Regions from separate parts of the Homo sapiens genome. Here region 2 is linked to region 1. The links come from fine-mapping of genetic effects on gene expression. A gene starts in region 1. The other region holds a variant in brackets. All regions are shown on one strand. Distances are between the middles of the regions.

The links. PIP is the estimated chance that this variant, and not a neighbour inherited with it, causes the effect.
Region 2: its variant is fine-mapped to the expression of C15orf62 in whole blood (TOPMed, PIP above 0.99).

What each region holds. Positions count from the first base shown.
Region 1 is chr15:40,765,482-40,774,029 of GRCh38, forward strand. It overlaps C15orf62 (chromosome 15 open reading frame 62), which reads left to right and starts at 4,499. Exons shown (of 1, transcript NM_001130448.3): 1 at 4,499-6,968. The coding sequence starts at 5,015. The coding sequence ends at 5,542. It overlaps GCHFR (GTP cyclohydrolase I feedback regulator), which reads left to right. Exons shown (of 3, transcript NM_005258.3): 2 at 346-440; 3 at 1,745-2,227. The coding sequence ends at 1,868. It overlaps DNAJC17 (DnaJ heat shock protein family (Hsp40) member C17), which reads right to left. Exons shown (of 11, transcript NM_018163.3): 10 at 8,246-8,356; 11 at 1-2,581. The coding sequence ends at 2,459. RefSeq lists enhancers at 1-699, 3,160-3,778, 4,397-5,015, 4,969-5,058, 5,016-5,632.
Region 2 is chr15:40,734,945-40,747,066 of GRCh38, forward strand. It overlaps RMDN3 (regulator of microtubule dynamics 3), which reads right to left. Exons shown (of 13, transcript NM_018145.3): 5 at 10,033-10,315; 6 at 9,103-9,205; 7 at 5,189-5,249; 8 at 3,557-3,632; 9 at 3,021-3,098; 10 at 2,684-2,782; 11 at 2,344-2,397; 12 at 2,180-2,260; 13 at 943-1,650. The coding sequence ends at 1,597. Among named protein-coding and RNA genes, the nearest start is that of RMDN3, 14 kb to the right of the region's middle. RefSeq lists an enhancer at 5,585-6,457 and a silencer at 11,649-11,818. The variant TC/T (reference allele first, on the strand shown) is at 4,355.

The DNA of each region.
Region 1 (8,548 bases):
GCTGGAGTGCAGTGGTGCAATCATGGCTCACTGCAGCCTCAAACTCCTCCCACCTCAAGCGATCCTCCCACCTCAGCCTCAGTAGCTGGAACTATAGGCTCGTGATACTTTGCCTGGCTAAAGCTGAGCTTTAAGGCACTAGGGAGGGCGCCTACATTGCTCCTCCTGATCATTGATGGGCTCCACCCCTTCACAGCTTGTGCTCAGCCCCTAAGAATCCTTGCTACTCTCTGTAGCCTTTACCTGAACCTTACTCAGGGCTAGCAGGCAGGGGAGGAAGGACAGGCAAGACCTTCCACCTCCTCCTGGCAGCCAGCCAAGCAGCCACTGTGGCTTACCTTGCAGGAGGTGGGCCCCACTATGGTGGGCGATGAACAGTCGGATCCAGAGCTGATGCAGCATCTGGGGGCTTCAAAGAGAAGAGCCTTGGGAAACAACTTGTAAGTAGCAGCCTCCCTCAGTATCCTCTCCCTGCCAGCCCCTAGACCTGCCTCTGCTCCCTTTATACAACCTCCAAGCCCAGGGACAGGGCCCAGCATCAGAGCCCCCTGCCTGCATCCTGGGGCTCTGTTCTCCGGAGGAGTTGGTCCCATCTGTAGCCTCTCCAACATCCCCCCTCTCCCCCACGAGGCTTGCTCTGAAAGCTTTCCACATCCTTACTGGAACCGCAGAAACAGAGTCCGTTCCCTGGGTCTAGGACTCCACTAGCAGACTGTTCCTTGCCCTGCCCTCTCCTAAGCTGGACCCCATCAAGGACAGACAGGCACAGAGAGAAAGGTTTTTGTCGTGAGGATCTGCATGAGTCGCAAAGCTAAGCCCTAGAAGCAGGGAGCAGGGAGCCTGCGTCCTACCTCCAGGGTGGCTGCTGCCTGGGGACCTAGCCATTTCCCTTGGCATTCTTCCTAATGCCTCCATGTCTAAACTGTGACTACTGCTTCCATTCCTCCTCTCACCCCTGGAGGCAGGGAGAACCCAAGCTACACAGGCTCTCTGAAAAGAGTTGTCAGAGTGAGTGCCAGTTCAAATCGGGGAAAGAGGAGGGCTGATCCCAGCCCCTGGGTCAAGGCTCGGGGACAGAAGCCAGCCCCCTCCCTTTGCCATGAGGCACTTGCCTCTCCATGCCCAGCTTGGGGCTTGAGCCCTTTGTCTGCTTCATGGTCTTTCAGCATCAATTAAACCTGACAGAAGGACTACCAGCACTCTCCATGCTAGGGAGTGGCGCACAGAGCCAGGAGCTACTGGGGCTCAGCCTTGTTGCTACAGAACTGCAGGACAGCCAGGGCAGTGAGGGGCCTGGAGGCTTATTTTTTTTTGAAATGGAGTCTCTGTCGCCCAGGCTGGAGTGCGGTGGTGCAATCATGGCTCACTGCAGCCTCAGCCTCCTCCTACCTGGAAGCCTGGGTGGGGAGCAAGCCCAGGGAGGGCGGCAGCAGGGCTGTGGTCAGACTAACATGGTCTACCATCTGGGACGCTGGGGAACCTGATTAACCCCTCTGTTTTCTCATCTATCAATGGCCACAACAGTGGCACCTTCACTAGCTTGTTGGGAAGAATAAATGAGATAGCTCGTGAAGTACCTAGAAGGGGAGGAGGCAGGGGGCGTGCACTTACCCCAGCGCCCAGCAAGCAGCCAGCAAGTGTGAGTCACTACAAGAGTGGCCAGGCTGCCTGCTGCAGACACTAGCTTTGTACCAGGAGCTTGCTGTGTGCCCCTCCTCACCCCCCCCATCCTGTCTCTTTGCAGTTATGAATACTACGTCGATGACCCTCCCCGCATAGTCCTGGACAAGCTGGAACGCAGGGGCTTCCGTGTGCTGAGCATGACGGGGGTGGGCCAGACGCTGGTGTGGTGTCTGCACAAGGAGTGACCTTCTCATGCTGATTTGCAGACGGGGCACCCCTGTGGAGGGGCTGCTGTGGGCCCTGACCTCCAAGCTCCTGCCTCACCGTCTGCCTTGCTCCTCTCTTCCCAAATCATCACCGCCATGGGCCCAGCCCCAAAGGGCAGTGAATGGCCTTCTCTGAAACCCTGCGTCAAGCAGTGGGAGAGGGCAGTGCCCGGTGCCCTGGTGCTCCCAGCTGCCCTCCTGCTTCGGGCCTGGGCCGAGGGCCTTGTGTAGGCCATGTTCCTCGGGCAGCTGCCCCGGGCCGGAGCTGGGCACTCCAGCGGCCCTGGCGCGTGGCTCCTGCATAGCTAGCCCAAGCCAATAAAGGGCTGTGATGAGTGGCTGCGCCTGTGCTCTGCTTGTGCACGGACTCTGGGACTCTCACCCTGCGGAGCGTTTCCCTGGGGGTCTGCCCACTTCCTGGGAGGGGCGCCAGGCCTGGGTGGAGCGCTCTGCGGCAGAGCCCAGCACCTTATACCTATGTATGGGATAGAGGTAAAATCTTAAAAAAAAAAAAAATTTATTGGTGACGTTGAAGAAAAGGGCTGAGGGGTGGATGGCTGGAGCTGGGGCTACGTAGGCGGCCCCTCCTGGTCTTCCTGCTGCATCCGTGCGATCAGCTGTTGCCGCTCGGCCGCCTGGCGCATGCGCATCATGACGAGGCTCTCGTAGTCCCTCTCTGACAGCACTGAGCCCTGTCGGACAGGGCAGGGACAGGGAGGGGTCAGGGACAGCAGGGCACAGCCTCACAGACTCCGAGTACGGTGCCGAGGCAGTGCTGCGTTCTAAGAGTCTCGGAGGGAGGACGGCAGAGGAAGGGAAGGAACCCGGAGCATCCTTTTGGAATCCTGGCTCGCCTGTGTCCCCCAGAACACGCCACCTTTGGCCTCCAGGCCGGCTTCTACCCAGCCAGCTCCCCCTCCCTTTCCCCAGGCCGCGTCAGCTCCGGTCCATCTGTTTCTCAGGAATCACCTGCGGGCCCTCTAAGCCAGGCCCTCGTCTCCCTTCATTTCCTCTGGGCCCTTTACCCTTCACCCCTTTCCCTCTACCCCGTAGCTTCTGCCTCTTAGGTTCCCAAGGAAGGGAAGTTGTCTGAGGAGCAGGGATGCACTTGGCTCTGCTGGGCACTGACCCTGGCACTCTCTATGCCCGGTGCCCTGTGGTCTGGCTCTTGCTGAGGATGCAGAAGGGAGCCCTACCCGAGGCAGCCCGGAATGCCCCACCCTCGAAGGGGAAAAAGGCAAGCATGAGGCCAGCGTGCCTCTAAAACTACACACCAGGGCTCCTGGAGGGCAGGGCCCATAATCAAAAGAATAATAAACAACCATCTGAATGGGCCAAGGCTGTAGGGTGGAGAAGCAGCTCTACAGCGGGACCTAAGCTGCCAACCCACGCCCTGATAAGGTCTGCGGTGGGAATTAAACCTTTTCCTCCCTCGGTGCCGCTTAGGCTGTGTGATGATCATGTGGTCCCAACAGCTTCTCAGAGAAGTGTGAAGCACACCTGAGTTGGCACAGAAGTGAGCTAGGCCAGGGATTGCAAGATGCGGTGGCCTGCCCGTAGCAGAGAGCTGTGGGGCCCTGATCCGCGGTACCCCGCATGGGGACGCTGTCACAGAGCAAGGCAGGAGGAAAATGTGGTGGTCAGTGACCCGGGGAATAGGAAGGGAGCAGCTAGGGTTGAGATGCCAGGCCCTGGCCAGCAGGTTTGGAGTAAGGGGTGTAGAGAAACAGGAAGTGTTACTCAGCCTGGGTTCCCCTGTTCCTCCCGATGGCTGCACCCCTCCCCTCTCCCCGGCTGCAGCAGTCCCAGCTAGGCCGGACTGCTAAGCCTGGCCCAGAGCACGGCTGACAATTCACGGCAGCCTCCCTGGCCCAGCCTCCTGCAAGAGAAGGAGGACCCCAGAGGAAGCCCGGTAGCCAGAGGGGAAGGGCTGGAGCACAGCCAGGTAGGAGGCAACACGGCCCGGCCTTCAGCAGCCGCTCTCCTGGCAGGAGCCCTCTAGGGTAAAACAAGGGAGGACAAGGAAATAGCAGCCAGGCTGATGGCAGGCCAAGAGGAGGCCACATCTCCCATCCCCAGGTTAATGCTGCTCTGCCAAGAAAACTTGGAGCCACCCTTGGCGGGCCCCCAGCCCAACCCTGGGCAGCAGAGCCCGCCCATCACAGGCATGGCGCTGCTCCCCATTAACACACCCTCTGCCCCCCTTCCTGTTCCTGCTCGTGAGGGCCTGACAGCGGGGCTGAGTCACCCATACCAGCTACAGGTCTCTTCCTTCCCCAACAATCGTTCCACACGCCTGCCTTTCAATTAACTCCCACCCGCCCCGAACTCTTCCTACCCAGACACTGTGGGCAGGGAGCCAGGCGCACCTGCTGGGGGCCCAGGGTGGTGGGGCTGTGATCAGAAAGGAAGCCGCGTGGTGACACATAAAGCAGGGCTGCCCCCACACGAGTCCCCAGAGGAATCTTAAGCTCCCCATTGCCCTGGGGTGTTGGTCCCAGCTGCCCCATCCCTGCACGCGGATGCTGCAATTACCCAAGAGCACGAAACCTGGCTTCCCACCTGACTGAGTCAGCTGAGAACAAAAACACATCTCCACCGCCACAAACAGCCAGGCCACTCATCAGAGTCCGGGAGCCACTGGCAGAGAGGGCACGGCCCCACACTGCCCCAGAGACATATAGGAGCCAGGCAAACACCAGGGCGAGTGAGCTCGGGCCATCTGCTGCCTGCCTGTGGAAGGAGCGCTCGCCAGCCTCACCCAGCCCGAGAAGGTCCACCTCTGCCTCCGCCGGAGCTGCCCTCATTCTGGCTCCAGTAAGTGCTGCTTCTTCCTCCTGGGTTTTTTTCCACTACCCTATTCAGTAACCAGGCCACTCCTGTCCCTGTGGGAAACTCTTGCTGCCAGGAACTCCCAGCTGTCTGCTCTCCTGGGCAAAAAAGTTCCTTCTTCCTGAGCCCTCCTCTCACCATCCAAGATGTGGTCAAAGGTCTGTGCTGAGTGGAAACCCTGAGGCCTCTGCTCCTAGGGGAGCCTCCCCAGCTGCTGGCACTCACTGCCCCAGCAGGGACCACATGCACCCTGGCTGCTCCTGAACACCTGTCTGCTGGCTCCCCTGGGCCCCATGGAGACCTGGCGGAAAGGCTCCTTCCGCAACGCCTCCTTCTTCAAGCAGCTGAGCCTGGGGCGGCCACGGCGGCTCCGGCGACAGAGTAGTGTGCTTAGCCAGGCCAGCACAGCAGGTGGGGACCACGAGGAGTACAGCAACCGAGAAGTCATCCGGGAGCTACAAGGGAGGCCAGATGGCCGGCGCCTGCCACTGTGGGGGGACGAGCAGCCCCGGGCCACCCTGCTGGCCCCACCCAAGCCCCCACGCCTCTACCGAGAGAGCTCAAGCTGCCCCAACATCCTGGAGCCCCCACCTGCCTACACAGCAGCCTACTCTGCCACCCTGCCATCGGCGCTCTCTCTGTCGAGTGCCCTCCACCAGCACTCAGAGAAGGGCCTTGTGGACACTCCCTGCTTCCAGAGGACACCTACCCCAGACCTCAGTGATCCCTTCCTCTCCTTCAAAGTGGACCTGGGGATTTCACTTCTTGAGGAAGTTCTGCAGATGCTAAGGGAGCAGTTTCCTAGCGAGCCCAGCTTCTAAATGGGGTGAGGGTGGGCAAAGCCGGGGTGACTGGAAGATCCAGAGGCTGGGGATTAAGGAAAGGACAGGGACAGGACTCCAGGCCCATCGCTGGAGGGTTCAGGCAGGCAGAGCTTCTTCATCCTGGGGGAGGATTCCAGGATAGGAATCCAGGGCTCTGCCTGCTCTCTGGGTCCTGGACAGTCCTTCCAGGCACCCCAGAGTGGAGGGACAGAGGCAATCTGGAAATGTTGGGGGGGCGGCCCTTCCTGGCAGGACCCTGAAGAAAGCTGGCTATGCCGGGAAAGGGAGGCTGTGCCGGGAAAGGGAGGCTCTGTGCGGCACTACAGGAACCAGGTAGAGGCTGGCAGAGCCAGAAGGTGGCACGGGGTCAGATCAGGGAGTGGGAGGACACAGACTGAGCAGAAGAGATGAGTGCCCCATGCCAGCCTCTTTGGAAGCCACTGTCAACAGAGAGAGGTCACAGGACAAGCTTGGGTAAAGGCAGTCCAACCCAGGCAGAAGAGGAAAGTGGGAAGGCCCAGGAAGAAAGGGGAGAAGGCCTGACCCTGTCTAATCTGGTGGCCACTCACTGCATGACACTGAATTGAAATAAATAAAATTAACAGTTCAGTTCCTCAGCTGCACCGTTATTCCAGATTCCACATTCCAAATGCCCGGTGGCCACACATGATTAATGGCTACCACACTGGTCAGTGCAGAATGGACGTAAACATCGCTGCACAAAGTTCTAATGGACAGCGCTGTCTAGACCATGGCCTGGAGCCACCAGCAAAGGGGAGGCGCATACAGGGGCTGGCCACATAGGAAGAGATAGGTAGAGATAGAGTATAACTCAGGAAAAAGACCAGGCAAATCCTTAGCAGAAATGAGGACGTGGCTCAGTCTGCCAACACAGCTACCCGGAGCAATCCCTGGTGAAGGAAGGCAGCTCTAGAGAATGCCAGCCACAGGCACGCGCACGGCTTGCAAAGGGGTACTTTGGGGAATTCCCAGAATTACTAGTGATGGGAGCCCTGGCAGGTTTCCTTCCTCGAAGAGAGGAGAACTGGATCCAGGGATGGGCATTCAACAGCGAAGCGGCACAGCTGGTTTCCAGAACCGTCTCCCGGGATTAGACAGTTCTGCCGCCTGAACCCTCCGACGATGGGCCTGCCAACCAGGCCAAGCCCACTGGGTCAAAGCCACAGGCTGTGCTACGGCCCCACCCCATGGCCTCACCAGAACACAGAAACCAGAGCCCAGCAGCACTGGCTGGGCCATGTGTTGGTGGCCCCCCGGGACTCGCTAAGAGTAGCAAAGGGGAGAGGGAAGCTCTGACACACACCATTTCTACGACCTAAATCAGTGGCCTCCCTCTTTCCTCCTCTTGTGTATAGGTACCGAGCTGTGGATACAGGAGAGAATGAATAAAATTCTAACACAATCTATGGAGTGTTATCTGGGGCTGTGAAATGCTGGGACTTGAAGGTGGGAATGAGGTCTCTAAAGCAGGGCCCTGAGTCAGGCCCAGGCCAGTTTGTTTCCCTCCATCCAGGATCTGGGACACACTTGCAGAAAGCTGCTTTCCAGTCACCCCAGTCAAGTGGAGGGGCAGGCAACGGAGCAGGCTGGCGTGGGTAAAGTAATGAGAGCAGCCTCCTGCCAGCCTGCTGAGGGGCTGTGGACACACCAGACAGGCCCTGGGCCACTGCAGAGAAGGGAAGAACCAGGTTGCTAGATCTTGCCCCCAAAGCAATCTGTTCCACCAAGGTGGGGACAGGTGTGGCCAGGAGCCCCACAGCCCTAGCCTTTGTATCCAGGCCAAAAGACACCAGGGCCATGGTTGCAGGTTGGGGGTTACACACAAGCTGGAAGGTCTACGCTTCACCCAGGCAGGGCACCCAGACTCTGGGCAGGCACCACCCCGTGTCAGCAGGGTAGCCAGAGTTCCTTCTTTTTTTTTTTTTTTTTTTGAGATGAAGTCTTGCTCTGTTGCCCAGGCTAGAGTGCAATGGCACGATCTCGGCTCACTGCAACCTCTGCCTCCCTGGTTCAAGCGATTCTCCTGCCTCAGCCTCCTGAGTAGCTGGGATTACAGGTGCGCACCATCATGCCCAGCTGATTTTTGTGTTTTTGTAGAGACGGGATTTCACTATGTTGGTCAGGCTAGTCTTCAACTCCTGACCTCAGGTGATCCGCCCCCCTCGGCCTCCCAAAGTGCTGGGATTAACGGCATGAGCCACTGCGCCCAGCCTGCCAGGGTTACTTCAAGAGGAGATATTGCCTCTTGACAGTCGGTCCCTTTCTGGGGCAGCCAGAGACACATCCAGAAAACTGAAGTGCTGGGAAGGAAGTGGCTGTCCTAGTCACCTGCCCCTTCTCTGCAGCACTGGGTCGTCTAAGCTCCAAATGCTTCACACACCACAACCAAGCAACCTGAGGGCCAGGAAGATCCCTTTGGTGAGAAGGAGAGTCCCAACAGGAGGCCAGATATGGAGAGAAAGCAAGGTCTAAGAATACAGTGTGGGTGGGGCCTCTCTGGCCCTCAGAGAGGAAAAGGGTTCAACGTGAAATCACAGCCCCTCTTGCCTGGGTTGGTGGACCTGCCAAGCTCACTCTAGGCCCCAAGATCTGAATTTGGAAGGAAAGAGCCTGAGAGGAGCCCAGGTAGGAAGAGCTCCGAGACCTGAGCGCCCAGCCGGGCGAGGCCTGACTCCTCACCTTTGACAGTCCTGAGTGGCTGCGGCCCACGGCATCCTGGGGCTGTCCCTCCAACCAGGAAATCTTCAGAGGGTTATCCACCAGGCCAACTTCATTCTGGACAGCCAGCTCCTGCCAAACACAGCATCTAGTCCTGTCCCATCCGTTGAGTCAGCTATAAAGAGGCTCTCTCTACCCCCACAGAGAGAACGGAACCAGCGTTCTAGCCCTCTAAGCAGAGATGCCAACCTCAGCAGCCTTCAAGTGATGGGTGTTAACGCTTTGGCCTTTCCTGCGGGAGAGGGGTTGGGGGAGCTTTCTGAT
Region 2 (12,122 bases), 29 kb before region 1:
TACTACAACACAAAATAAATCTGGGGGCCAGGAACGGTGGCTCACACCTGTAATCCCAGCACTTTGGGAGGCTGAGGCAGGTGGATTGCCTGAGATCAGGAGTTCCAGACCAGTCTGGCCAACATGGTGAAACCCCGTCTCTACTAAAAATACAAAAAAAATTAGCTGGGCGTGGTGATATGCCCCTGTAATCCCAGCTACTTGGGAGGCTGAGGCAGGGGAATTGCTTGAATCAAGGAGGTGGAGGTTGCAATGAGCCAAGATCGCGCCACTGCACTCCAGCCTGGGTGACAAAGCGAGACTCCAGCAAAAAAAAAAAAAATCTGGGTTGGTATAATAAAGACACAGTGACATTCTAGATTAAGGGGTTGGTTCTTATATGAAAGCATCTCAATCTTTTTTTTGAGACAGAGGTTTGCTCTTGTTGCCCAGGCTAGAGCGCAAGGGTGTGATCTCAGCTCACTGCAACCCCTGCCTCCCAGGCTCAAGTGATTCTCTTGCTGTAGCCTCTCTAGTAGCTGAGATTACAGGCGTGCGCCACCATACCGAGCTAATTTTTTCTGTCTGTATTTTTAGTAGAGATGGGGGTTTCACCATGTTGGCCAGGCTGGTCTCAAACCCTTGGCCTCAAGTGATCCACCCGCCTTGGCCTCCCAGAGTGCTAGGATTACAAGCAACAAGCATGAGCTACCACGCTCGGCCTATGCATCTCAGTCTTAAATTTTCTTCTAGGTGGATTTAGGGGTTTGTGCTCGTGGCCCTAAAAATGAACATGAGAAAGGCAGGGAGTACCTGCTTAGTTGCAATAGGCCTTGTTTAGGCTAAAAATAAGCTCGATACCTGTATTTTATATACTGTAAAGAGCATTAACCATAACCTGCCTGCAACAGCCTCTGTAGGTAGAAACAATTATGGAGGTGTCAAGTAAGAATAAAGAGCTGATAACATCAAATTTGGTTTATTTCAAGTTTGTAACAAAATATATTCTAGGCAACTTTTCAGACATTGTTTTATAGCATCATAAACCCCATACCACTGCTGTCATTCCAAAAGCTGCCAGGACACTGGAAGTTATCAAGTGGTCCAGCCCAGGAATACAGGTAGAATTCACATGATAGGTGATAAGAAAGCAATGTCTGTGGGCCACTCTGATCCCTCTTTTTACCTTGGTAGGTAAGGTATGATCTTAAGACTATATGTACTGAGTCCTATTAGTCAGTGAAAAAGATTAAAGTGACAAGTTATGTGCTTTGTTCCTATAGCTTTGAAGTTCATCCACCTCACCAGCAATTGGAAGGTCTCAGGTCTTGCAGGCTCTACCCATGTGTAATCCTGGGGCAGGTGTGAATCTTGATTTTTTTAAGAGATTACTCAAGGGAGAGAACAACAGAAACGGAAGCCATGAGTACTGCCCCAATTCTAGATTAGGTTAGAGGTTAGAATAAATTAACTAATGGGGAGTGGTAGTGGGTAGCAGTCAGACCCAGGAGACAGATTTGTGTGGTTTCCTGATCTCAGCAAGGTCTAAGGAAAAAAGCCTCCCCGCCCCCCCACCTTAAATAGTGGCATCAAGTCATGAAGGCCAGTGAAACGTGGTTAGTCTCGTAAAATGACTTCCAGTTCTTCCAGGTCCTTCTGGATAGCCAAATCCTAGGGAGACAAAGAACAAATCTAGGGCTCAAAATTTAAACCAGCATTTTCCCAAACCAGTGGAACCTAAGAAGAGGGGCCCTTTGCTTCCTTCCTGAGCTCTGCTACAGTCTTTTTCCTACTTCCCCAGGATAGCCTGGAGCCTATTAAATCTGTCTCTTCCCCTAGAGGTAGACTCTTTTTTACTAGGGAAATAAGACCTCTAGGAAAGATTATTTTCTAAAAATGTCACATGATGATTCAGTGATGACAGGCAGTTTTGTTTGGTTTTTTTTTGAGATGGAGTTTTGCTCTTGTTGCCGAGGCTGGAGTGCAATGGCACGATCTGAGCTCACTGCAACCTCCACCTCCCGGATTCAAGCGATTCTCCAGCCTCAGCTTCCCGAGTAGCTGGAATTATAGGCGTGCGCCACTAGGCCCAACTAATTTTGTAATTTTAGTAGAGATGGGGTTTCTCCATGTTGGTCAGGCTGTCTCGAACTCCCGACTTCAGGTGATCTGCCCAACAGGCAGTATTAAAAAGCCTTACCTCCTTCGTGACATCTGGCAGCTCCAGGGCCAACTTCATCCACCATCTAGCTTCAGAGTTTTTCCCTAGTTCTCTGTAGCACTGAAAAGAGACAACAGTGAAACCTGATACTGTGTACTTTCAGGAGTTCCCAGATCTATGTTGAAGTAGACAAATGAGTTTACCTTGGAAATATATACCCTTCCTGCTTTGGAAAATCCTGGCTGTAGTTCTTCAGCCTGGGAAAAGGGACAAAGATATTTCAGTAAGAGGTTCCTATATTCTAATCAGGCTGAAGTTTATTAAACTAGATTTCTAGTCCCCAACCATGTGGCTGATTCAGTGGGTCTGAAGAAACCTATATTTTTGATAAGCTGTGCAAGTGATTCTGGTTTTCCCATAGAACAGGCAAACACAAAATTGCCCCCGACTAGGAAAACCCCTCCCATTAAGGGTCTCAATAATGTCCTTAGGAAAAAACAAGGTTACCCTGGTGTTTTTGCCTGCCACCTGCCCCTCTCATACCTTTAGGAAGCTCTGGAGGGCATCTTCCACAGTGGCACTGAGAGGGCTTTCAAGCAAGGCTGTAGCAGTTTTTTTTTCTAGCCAGCTCAGGTGAGAGACCTGCCACAAAAAGATCAAGGTGTGTATAAGAGGTTTTAAAAGGTTTTTTTTCTTTAAATCTTTGGGGATATATTGAAAATAGGGTCAAACGGGGCTGGGTCGAACCACCAATAATACGAGCATTCAGAAGAAAGGGCACCTGAGCCAGAGAAGGCTGAGGATCTTGTTCTTCCTGGCAAGGAAATCGGTGTCAGAAGGCATTTAGGACCATTATGTCAAGCACTGAAACGCAGCTTACCTGATAGCACCACCTGCCAAGAAGAAAGTGAGCCATGGGGTTTTCTGGCTGGAGAGCAATGGCTTTGTCCACATGCTCCTAAGGGGAAAATGTAAATATAAACTAACATCAGACACCAGAGTTGCTAAAAGAGAGGCAAGGGCCGGATGCAGTGGCTCATGCCTGTAATCCCTGCACTTTGGGAAGCTGAGGCAGGTGGATCACCTGAGGTCAGGAGTTCGAAACCAGTCCTGGCCAACATGGTGAAACCCCATCTGTGCTAAAGATACAAAAATTAGCCGGGCATGGTGGTACATGCCTGTAATCCCAGCTACTTGGGAGGCTGAGGCAGGAGAATCGCTTGAACCCAGGAGGTTGCAGTGAGCCAAGATCACACCACTGCACTCCAGCTTGGGCGATAGAGTGAGACTCTGTCTCAAAAAAAAAGAAGAAAGGCAAGTCACTGAGGCTGTAGAAAAGTTTTTGGCAGGGAGCTGGAAAGGAGTGGGGAATCTGGGATAGGCCAGCACAAGGAAGGAGGAAAAGCCTGTCCTCACCTTGAAGCTAAAGCCACTCTGGATGCGCCTCTGGATGCTCTCATGCTCAGCCAGCTGACCACAAAGCACCGCATACCTAGGGGGGAAGCAGCAAGCTCAGGGACAAGGGCTGAGTACCATCACTGCAAGGAATGGATGCCCCAACCACAGCCTAGTTGCATTGTCCCCTATCCCTGTACCCTCAACTAGAGCTGAAAATACCTAATTTTCATCTGTACGTAATCCCCATTCTTTACGGACCTCTGGCCCCAATTAGTATTCTTTAGTAGATAATGGTAGGCTTACAAGTCTCCAAAGTATTCTAGGTATAAAAAAAGCTGGGTTCACCACAGTAAATCTCTCTTACACAGTAAATCTCTCCTACACTCATAAGGAGTACAGCCACAGGCATTAATAAAAACTTGAAAAGCATGAAAACAATCAGCATAAAAGTATGAGACCTGACTATACTACTTATCTTCTGGGCAGACAAAAAAGTGGGTCTCATTAGCCTTTAAGCATACAGGTGTATCACTGGGACTTGGGAAGCAATTTCTTAGGATAGTCACATTGGGAGGGGATATTCTAGGAATTTCTGATGTTACTTGGAAACCAACAGAACCAGAGGAAGAAAGACCTCCTATATATGCCTTCTCCCCCACATCCCCCCTCCCAAAGGGAACCAGCCAGCCAGCTTCCCATCATCTGTCTTCAGAAACAAAGTCTTACTTCCCCATCCCCCCAGCATTGTTCCTAGCAGCACAGTTGACATTCGATGAGTAACCAGCCCAAGTTGCTTTTTCATGTATATGCTAAGTA[TC/T]CGGGGGGTATCAGATACTTCTAGAGGCTCATTTCCATGTTTAATCCAAACAGCTGTTCCTCAGGAATAGCTGTTCATCCTTGGAAGCCCAGGGAAGCAGTGACACCCAAGAAACAGTTACCTGGCCTCTGAGAAGAACCCTTGCAGAGACAAAAGTTTCAGCAACAGATGGAGAAACACAGCCTCTCACTTAGCTCACAGTCTGAGGGTGGAGACATGGAAAGCAAGGGTGGCGGTGGGAAAGGAAAGGAACATTTTCACTAAAACTCAGGTGCTGGAACCAGACCCCAGGATATGAGTTAGCCGTGGCCCAGGTAAGCTGACAGAACTTTGCCTCACATGAGACCACAAAAAGGGCTGATGTTTTTGCAGCCTAATAAATTGACCACTAAACTTCTGGGGGGTGAGCTCACATCTACTTTTCCTCACATGAACCAAGCAAAGAAGCCAAAGTACCAGCAGCCAGGGATCACACGCAGGGGAAAGAAGAGCTTATGCAGGATAGGGGAGCTGCAGATTGTCCCAGCCTCCTGAGAGCCAAGAACTCCAGTTTTGTAGCTAGGATGACTCTTAACAAAGCTACTCATTTCTCCAAGCCCCATCAGAAAAAAAGCTTGTATTCCCCGCTTGCCTCATCCCTAAGCCACCTCCCCTACCAGAAACTTCCCTTGTCTCTGGCTAGGGGTAGACTGAGGCATGTGGAGATACAAGCCAGAACTCCCTCTCCTGGATCCTTTGGAAAATGCCTCTGTGGCCCAGGCAGAGAAAAGAAAGGGCTGTCCTCTGCTTTGGCCCTTGCTGGCTCTTCCCAGAACACTGCAGGGTGTTATTACCACAGGTGACAGTCAGCACTCTCATCCCCCTTCTCCAGAGCAGCCTCTGCTTCTTCTTTTCCTGTAGGACGAAGGTAGATCCAGAGTTGACATAGCTCTTATGCACACTTTCATAGGAAGGCTTGTGGGAAGAATGACTGCTTTAGCTCTCACCAATCCCTACCCAGCTTGGACTTGTTTGGAAATAGTTGTGAACTTGAGCAGAATGAAAGGCCGCAAAGAAGCCAGTCACAGTGGCTCACGCCTCTGTGCTGTGTAATCCCAGCACTTTGGGAGGCTGAGGCGGGTAGAGCGCCTGAGGTCAGGAGTCGGAGACCAGCCTGGCCAACACAGTGAAACCCCATCTCTACCAAAAATACAAAAATTAGCTGGGCGTGGTGGCAGGCGCCTGTAGTCCCAGCTACTCAAAAGGCTGAGGCAGGAGAATCGCTTGAACCCAGGAGGCAGAGGTTGCAGTGAGCCGAGATTGCACCACTGCACTCCAGACTAGGTGACAGAGCAAGACTGTCTCAGAAAAGGCTGCAAACGGCTTCTAAGGGAAGACTTCAGGGATGACTTCTGCTTCACCTTGGCTTCCCCATCTGTCATTAGAAACCCCAGTTACCTTCTTTTTATAATGCCCACCTGATGTGCTTGAAGCAGATTTTAGCATTTAAAATATAAAAGGATCCAGCCAGGCACGATGGCTTATGCCTGTAATCCTAGCACTTTGGAAGGCCGAGGTGGGTGGATCACTTGAGGCCAAGTGTTTGAGACAAGCCTGAGCAACATGGTGAAACCCTGCCTCTACTAAAAATATAAAATTAGCCAGGCATGTTGGCACATCCTGTAGTCCCAGCTCCCCAGGAGGCTGAGGCAGGAGAATCACTTGAACCTGGGAGGCAGAAGTTGCAACGAGCCAAGATTGCACCACTGCACTCCAGCCTGGGCGACGAACTCCACCTCAAAAAAAACAACAACAACGGATCCAACACAATCAGAAATTGTCCCCAACAGACCTTACTCTGGAGGGGCAGTGTCCATGAATCTCAAGTTGTATAAAATTTAAGTAAGTGGGGAGAGAGATCACAGCTTTGAAAAAATTCCCTAAAGGGGATGGGTACATTGGCTCACACCTGTAATCCTAGAACTTTGAGAGGCCAAGGAGAGGATAGCTTGGGACCAAGAGTTCAAGACCAATCTGGGCAACATAGGCAGACCCCATCTCTTTAAAAAAAAAAATTCTCAAAAGGATCCACGATCCAACAATATTAATTAGCTCTAGGCCAAAACTCTTTCACAAGAGCCACATGGACTGAGGTCTGACCAGAGATGACGTTCACTTAGTCTTACCCGAGTTTTCTAGGTTAGTGTTCTAACAAAGAAATGAAAGCCCATAAACATGAAAGTTCTGACAAGCGTCACTTAAGAGTATCGAGGCTGGAGCTTACGGACCACCAGATAAGGACCATCATGCCTATGCACTGGAGAAGACACTGCAACATAGGATTTTTTTTTTTTTTTTTTTTTTTTTTGAGACAAGAGTCTCACTCTGTCGTCCAGGCTGGAGTGCAATAGCACGATCTAGGCTCACCGCAACCTCCGCCTCCAGGTTCAAGTGATTCTCCTGCGTCAGCCTCCCGAGTAGCTGGGATTACAGGTGTGTGCCACCACACCTGGCTAATTTTTGTATTTTTAGTAGAGACAGTTTTGCCTTGTTGGCCAGGCTGGTCTCAAACTCCTGACCTCAGGTGATGCGCCCACCTCAGCCTCCCAAAGTGCTGTGATTACAGGTGCGAACCACCGTGCCCAGCCAAGAATTCTTTGAAGAAAACAAGTTTGGAAGGGAACATGGAGAAAATGGAACAAATGTAATGCATTGAGGTGGTAAACTGGCTAATCTGAAATGTTTTCCTTTTTTTATTTGAGACAGGGTCTCTCTCTGTTGCCCAGGCTGGAGTGCAGTGGTGCAATCTCAGTTCACTACAACCTCTGCCTCCTGGGCTGAAACAATCCTCCTGCTGGCATGTTCCACCACCATGCCTGGCTAATTTTTTAAGTTTTTTTTTTTTTTTTTGTAGAGACAAGGTCTCACTATATTGCCCAGGCTAGTCTCTAACTCCTGGGCTCAAGCAATCCTCCTGCCTTGGCCTCCCAAAGTGCTAGGATTATAGGCATGAGCCACCACACCTGGCCACAAATGCATTCTTAAGACAACTGATGCTGTGAAAGACTCTACCTCTCTTCCCAAAGAGAGGGACCACATGGCCCCACCAATGAGGGACGCTGCCTCTTTGGGGATTTCTCTCTGCCCTCTTCAAAGTACTGTCTCACTAGGAAAATAATAGCAAAGAATGAGACAACTAGTTCCTGCCAAGCTAGACAGACAGTGTTGTAGACAAGACATTGCCTGAGACCCCACAGAATGACTGCCTCCTGGTGGTCCAGCTCCTAGAGATACAATGAAATAAACTTTATACCCAGTAAGGATAATTCTTAAAGGCTGTGATCTCAGAGCAGAACCTTCAAAGACATTCCATAGTCATCTGACCTCCAGCAGGTAAAGCTTTGTCCATGGGTGCTAAGCTCAGGAGGCCAGACCAACCAAGTGCTGCCCTGCTAACCACTGCCTCCACTTCTGTCTTTGGGGTTCATGCTGGCTACTAGCACTAATAAGAGATGACCAATGATCAAGAGGGAAAGGAAAGGTTGTTGACATGAAGAGTCCAAAAATCAGCCCAAAAGCTGAGAATCCTCATCTGAAATTTAGGAGGGAAAACAAACTTTTGGAGAGAAAAAGTAATCATAAATAAGCATCTTTTGTTAAAACTTCCAGGAATTTTTCTGAGGGTCTACAGAGACATCCTACTCAATTGGTCTGTTCTTTCTCCATTGACAGAATTCTACAAATGTTTAGAATGTTAACTTTGAGGTACTGTTTGAGTATACATTATCAAGGATTCAATAATATTTGTAAGGCTGTACTTACAATAGAAAGGTAGACAAATCCATTTTAGACAGTTAACTGGCCAGGCACAGTGGTTTATGCCTGTTATCCCAGCACTTTGGGAGGCCTAGGTGGGTGAATCAGTTGAGGCCAGGAGTTCAAGACCAGCCTAGCCAACATGGCGAAACCCCATCTCTGCTAAAAATACAAGACTTAGTCGGGTATGATGGCATGTGCTTGTAATCCCAGCTACTGGGGAGGCTGAGGCAGGAGAATTGCTTGAGCCCAGGAGGTGGAGGTTGCAGTCAGCCGAGATCAGGCCACTGAACTCCAGCCTGGGCAACAGAGAAAGACTGTTTAAAAAAAAAAAAAAAATAGATATTAACTGAACCACAGACCTAGAAACCCATTACCCATTGATGGTACCTGACTCAGTGTGTGGAGTTCAGCAGGACACATCAGTCTCTAAAGTCCAAGCATTCTCTGACCTCATGACAGATAAGGCCAAGCCCTGAGCCTGGCACAGGTCAGATGCACCCTATCCTCCAGGGTGGAGCCTTTGCCAACAGACTTGCCAAGTGGATTCCAGAGTCTTCTAAGCTAGCTATATTCTTAGAACACCTGCCCCACCAGCTCAGAAAACTGAAACCAGATTTCTAAGCAGCAGCAAAAAACCTCAGGTTAAGAAAAAAGGTTTTGCCCTCTGTGGCTAGAGTGAGAAAAACGAATAACATTGATAGGATACAACTACTCCTAGAAACACATGCACGTGTGTTACTAATCAGCATGATATACAGATAAGCAAAGACTGCTCTCTTCTTCCAGAGGAGAAAGCAAGGGTCTTTGGGAGCCAGAGTTTGTCCCTAGTGGGTAACTGAGCCACAACTGCTGACAGCATCTTGGTGGTTCCCCGGGTCCCCAGGCAGATGGGCCAGCCCCACCCCTGAATCAGTCAGTCACCTTCCCACAGGAAGCTGTCAGCACTTACCATCTAGGGCATATGACTTCTTCTCGCTCACCTCCTCAGTGAGCTCACACATGTCACTGTAGGCTCGGGCCAGGCGCCAGAGAAAGTCCTGCCGGCTTCCATACTGCAGACCAGACAGAAACGGGTGAGGCCCCTTTTTCCTCAACTGTGGAGAATGGGGGCCTTGGCCTTCCCCCACACCCTAGGTTTGAATTTCCAAGCTAGTATGTTACAGTCATCAATATCAGGCCAGCTCCTACACGCAGCCTTCCCCCCAGTCATCCCTTCCCACGTGCAGTTAATGTATGACACATTCTCTGTCTAGCCAGTAGCTTGCACAATTACGGGGTGAGGGCATTCTGACCTCCTAGAACTGCTGGGAGGAAAGGTCAACTCCAAGATGTCATAAGGCACGAGAGGTCTTTTGCTGACACATGAAGAAAGTGTGAAAGGAAAAGGGAAACTTCTAACTTCTGGGGGGGGGGCATTTATACCTGGGTGGGCATATATTCTGTCAGTGAACCTGACAAGAGAATTATGGTTGAGTGACCTACACAGTTGTCGCTTGTAATGGGGCTGGCAGCTTGGACTCTGCCTCAAGGGAAATGAGGAGAAAAAAAAAATACAGTTCTTTCCACATTTCCCCCTAGAGGTGAGAGGTAGAGCTCTTTCTGCAGTAGCTCTACAGAAAGCAGAGAACTACACTCCCCCTCCCAAGAGGGGAGGCAGCTCTGGGGCAAGCAGTACACTGGCCCTAGGATCCACGCTGGGCCTCCTTGGAAGAGGATATGTGACCTGGGGGACAGATGCAAAACCAGCTGTCTCACCATTTCTCGTCCCATGTCACCTTGTAGGGGCAGTAACCACACGGGCCTTCATTCCCCAGGGGTCAGGAACAGAGAGATGGAGGGAGGGAGGGAAGGAGAAGGAGACAGGCAGCTGGAGCCTCACCACCAGCTTGTTGTTGAGCAGCAGCTGGAAGCCCTCCCGCTTGCCTTGCTCATCACCCCTGTGCAGCTCGTCGGCCTGCTGCAGGAGGGGCAGCACATCCTCCAAGCCTGAGGAACCTCCAGCCTCCAGGGCACTGGAGGCACCTGAAGCTGCCTCTTCCTCCAAGTCAAGAGAATCCTTTCTCCCCATCTTCACAGTCTCACAGCTCACTTCATCTTCCCCGTCCTCACTTTCTTTGTCAGAGTCCCGCTCATTGTCAGACTCCGCATTGGCTGTTGTGTAACTGGCAGAGAAATGTAAGGGACAACAAGAGGATTATTCAGCTCAGAGCCCCTAGGGTCTGTCTATCCCTCACCCCCAAAGAAGCACTCTACATGGCATTGTCCAAAGCACCAAATCACAATCATTCATACCTCTTAAGGGCAGACTTTTTTTCTTTTTTTTTTTTTTTTTTGAGACAGGGTCCCGCTCTGTCACCCAGACTGGAGTGCAGTGGTTCGATCTTGGCTCACTCAAACCTCCACCTCCTGGGGTCAAGCAATTCTCCCACCTAATTTTTTTGTATTTTTAGTAGAGACGGGGTTTTGCCATGTTGCCCAGACTGGTCTCAAACCCCTGGCCTCAAGTGATCCGCCCACCTCGGCCTCCCAAAGTGCTGGGATTACAGGCATGAGCCACCATGCCCAGCAGAAATCATTATTTGAGAGAAAGTTTCCTATGGGAACTAAGGGCTGGGAAAATGATCCAGGAAGGAAAGAGCAGACAACCAGCTGAGGCCCTGTGACAGTTAAGGCAAATGTGAGAAGTCCCTGCTCGTTTTTGCCTTATCAGTCAGAGACACTTGCCACAACCAACATGGGTGGGTGCAGCCTCAGGCCATGGGCAGCCACACACACATCCACAAACTCGCAACCTCTGGCCCAAGTCAACAACCAAACCTAAACCGCAACAGGAGTAGCCCATAGTAACCTTGAGAACTTAAGGGTGTGAGGAGAGGTGATAGGAACCACTTTGCAGCCAGAAGCAAGAAGGGGAAGACAATGCAAACTACCCCCTGAAAAGGTGTTTGGGGGGCTGCCATATGCCAGGTGGCTCCTAAGGAGCCCCAACCCTGATGCACCCACTAAAGAGGAAGCTGAGTTTCTCTTGGATCTCAGCCACCAGCAGCTGATTAGGGTGTTTTCCCTAAATGCCTAAAATAGATAAGGACTGAGCAGGGGAAAAGGTAGGACTTCTGGGGGTCAGAAGCAAACACAAGGCTGGGGGCGGTGGCTCACGCCTGTAATCCCAGCACTTTGGGAGGCCGAGGCGGGCGGATCAGGAGGTCAGGAGATCAAGACCATCCTGGCTAACACGGTGAAACCCTGTCTCTACTAAAAAATACAAAAAATTAGCCAGGCATGGTGGCAGGTGCCTGTAGTCCCAGCTACTCGGGAGGCTGAGGCAGAAGAATGGGCGTGAACCCGGGAGGCAGAGCTTGCAGTGAGCGGAGATCACACCACTGCACTCCACCCTGGGCGACAGAGCAAGACTCCGTCTCAAAAAAAAAAAAAAAAAAGAATAGGCTCCCTGTGGCTGGAGCAAAACAGGACTGAAGGAGAGATGACACACCACCTACAAATAAAGTCAACAACTGACAGCCTAATGTCAGGGCAGAAGTGCTGTCCTGCCCAGAAAACCAGAAACCACAAGGTGGCAGGCTCTGAAGGCTCTGGAAGTGAGCAGCCAGACCTGGTACCCAGTCCGTGCTGACTGCATCCTTACAGAGGAGCTTCAGCCTCATCTAAAAAAGAGGCCCCAGACACATCTACTACAAGAACTTGTAAGGTATTTAAAACCTTTCCTAACTGCACCTTTGTTTTTTAAGAGGTTATCCAAGTAGATTTCCCCTTTAGTTATTAGAAAAAAAAAAAAACACCTTTAGAAATCAAAGGGACAAGGATAAGTGTCATTAGATTTCGTAACCAACCTGGGTACTGATGAGGGAGACCACCCACAGGCAACCTAGAGAATGAAACTCCCAACTGCACCTGCCAGATTGAGAAAAATCAAACCAGAGTCTCCTCTGCCCAGCCAGGCCCAAATGCAAA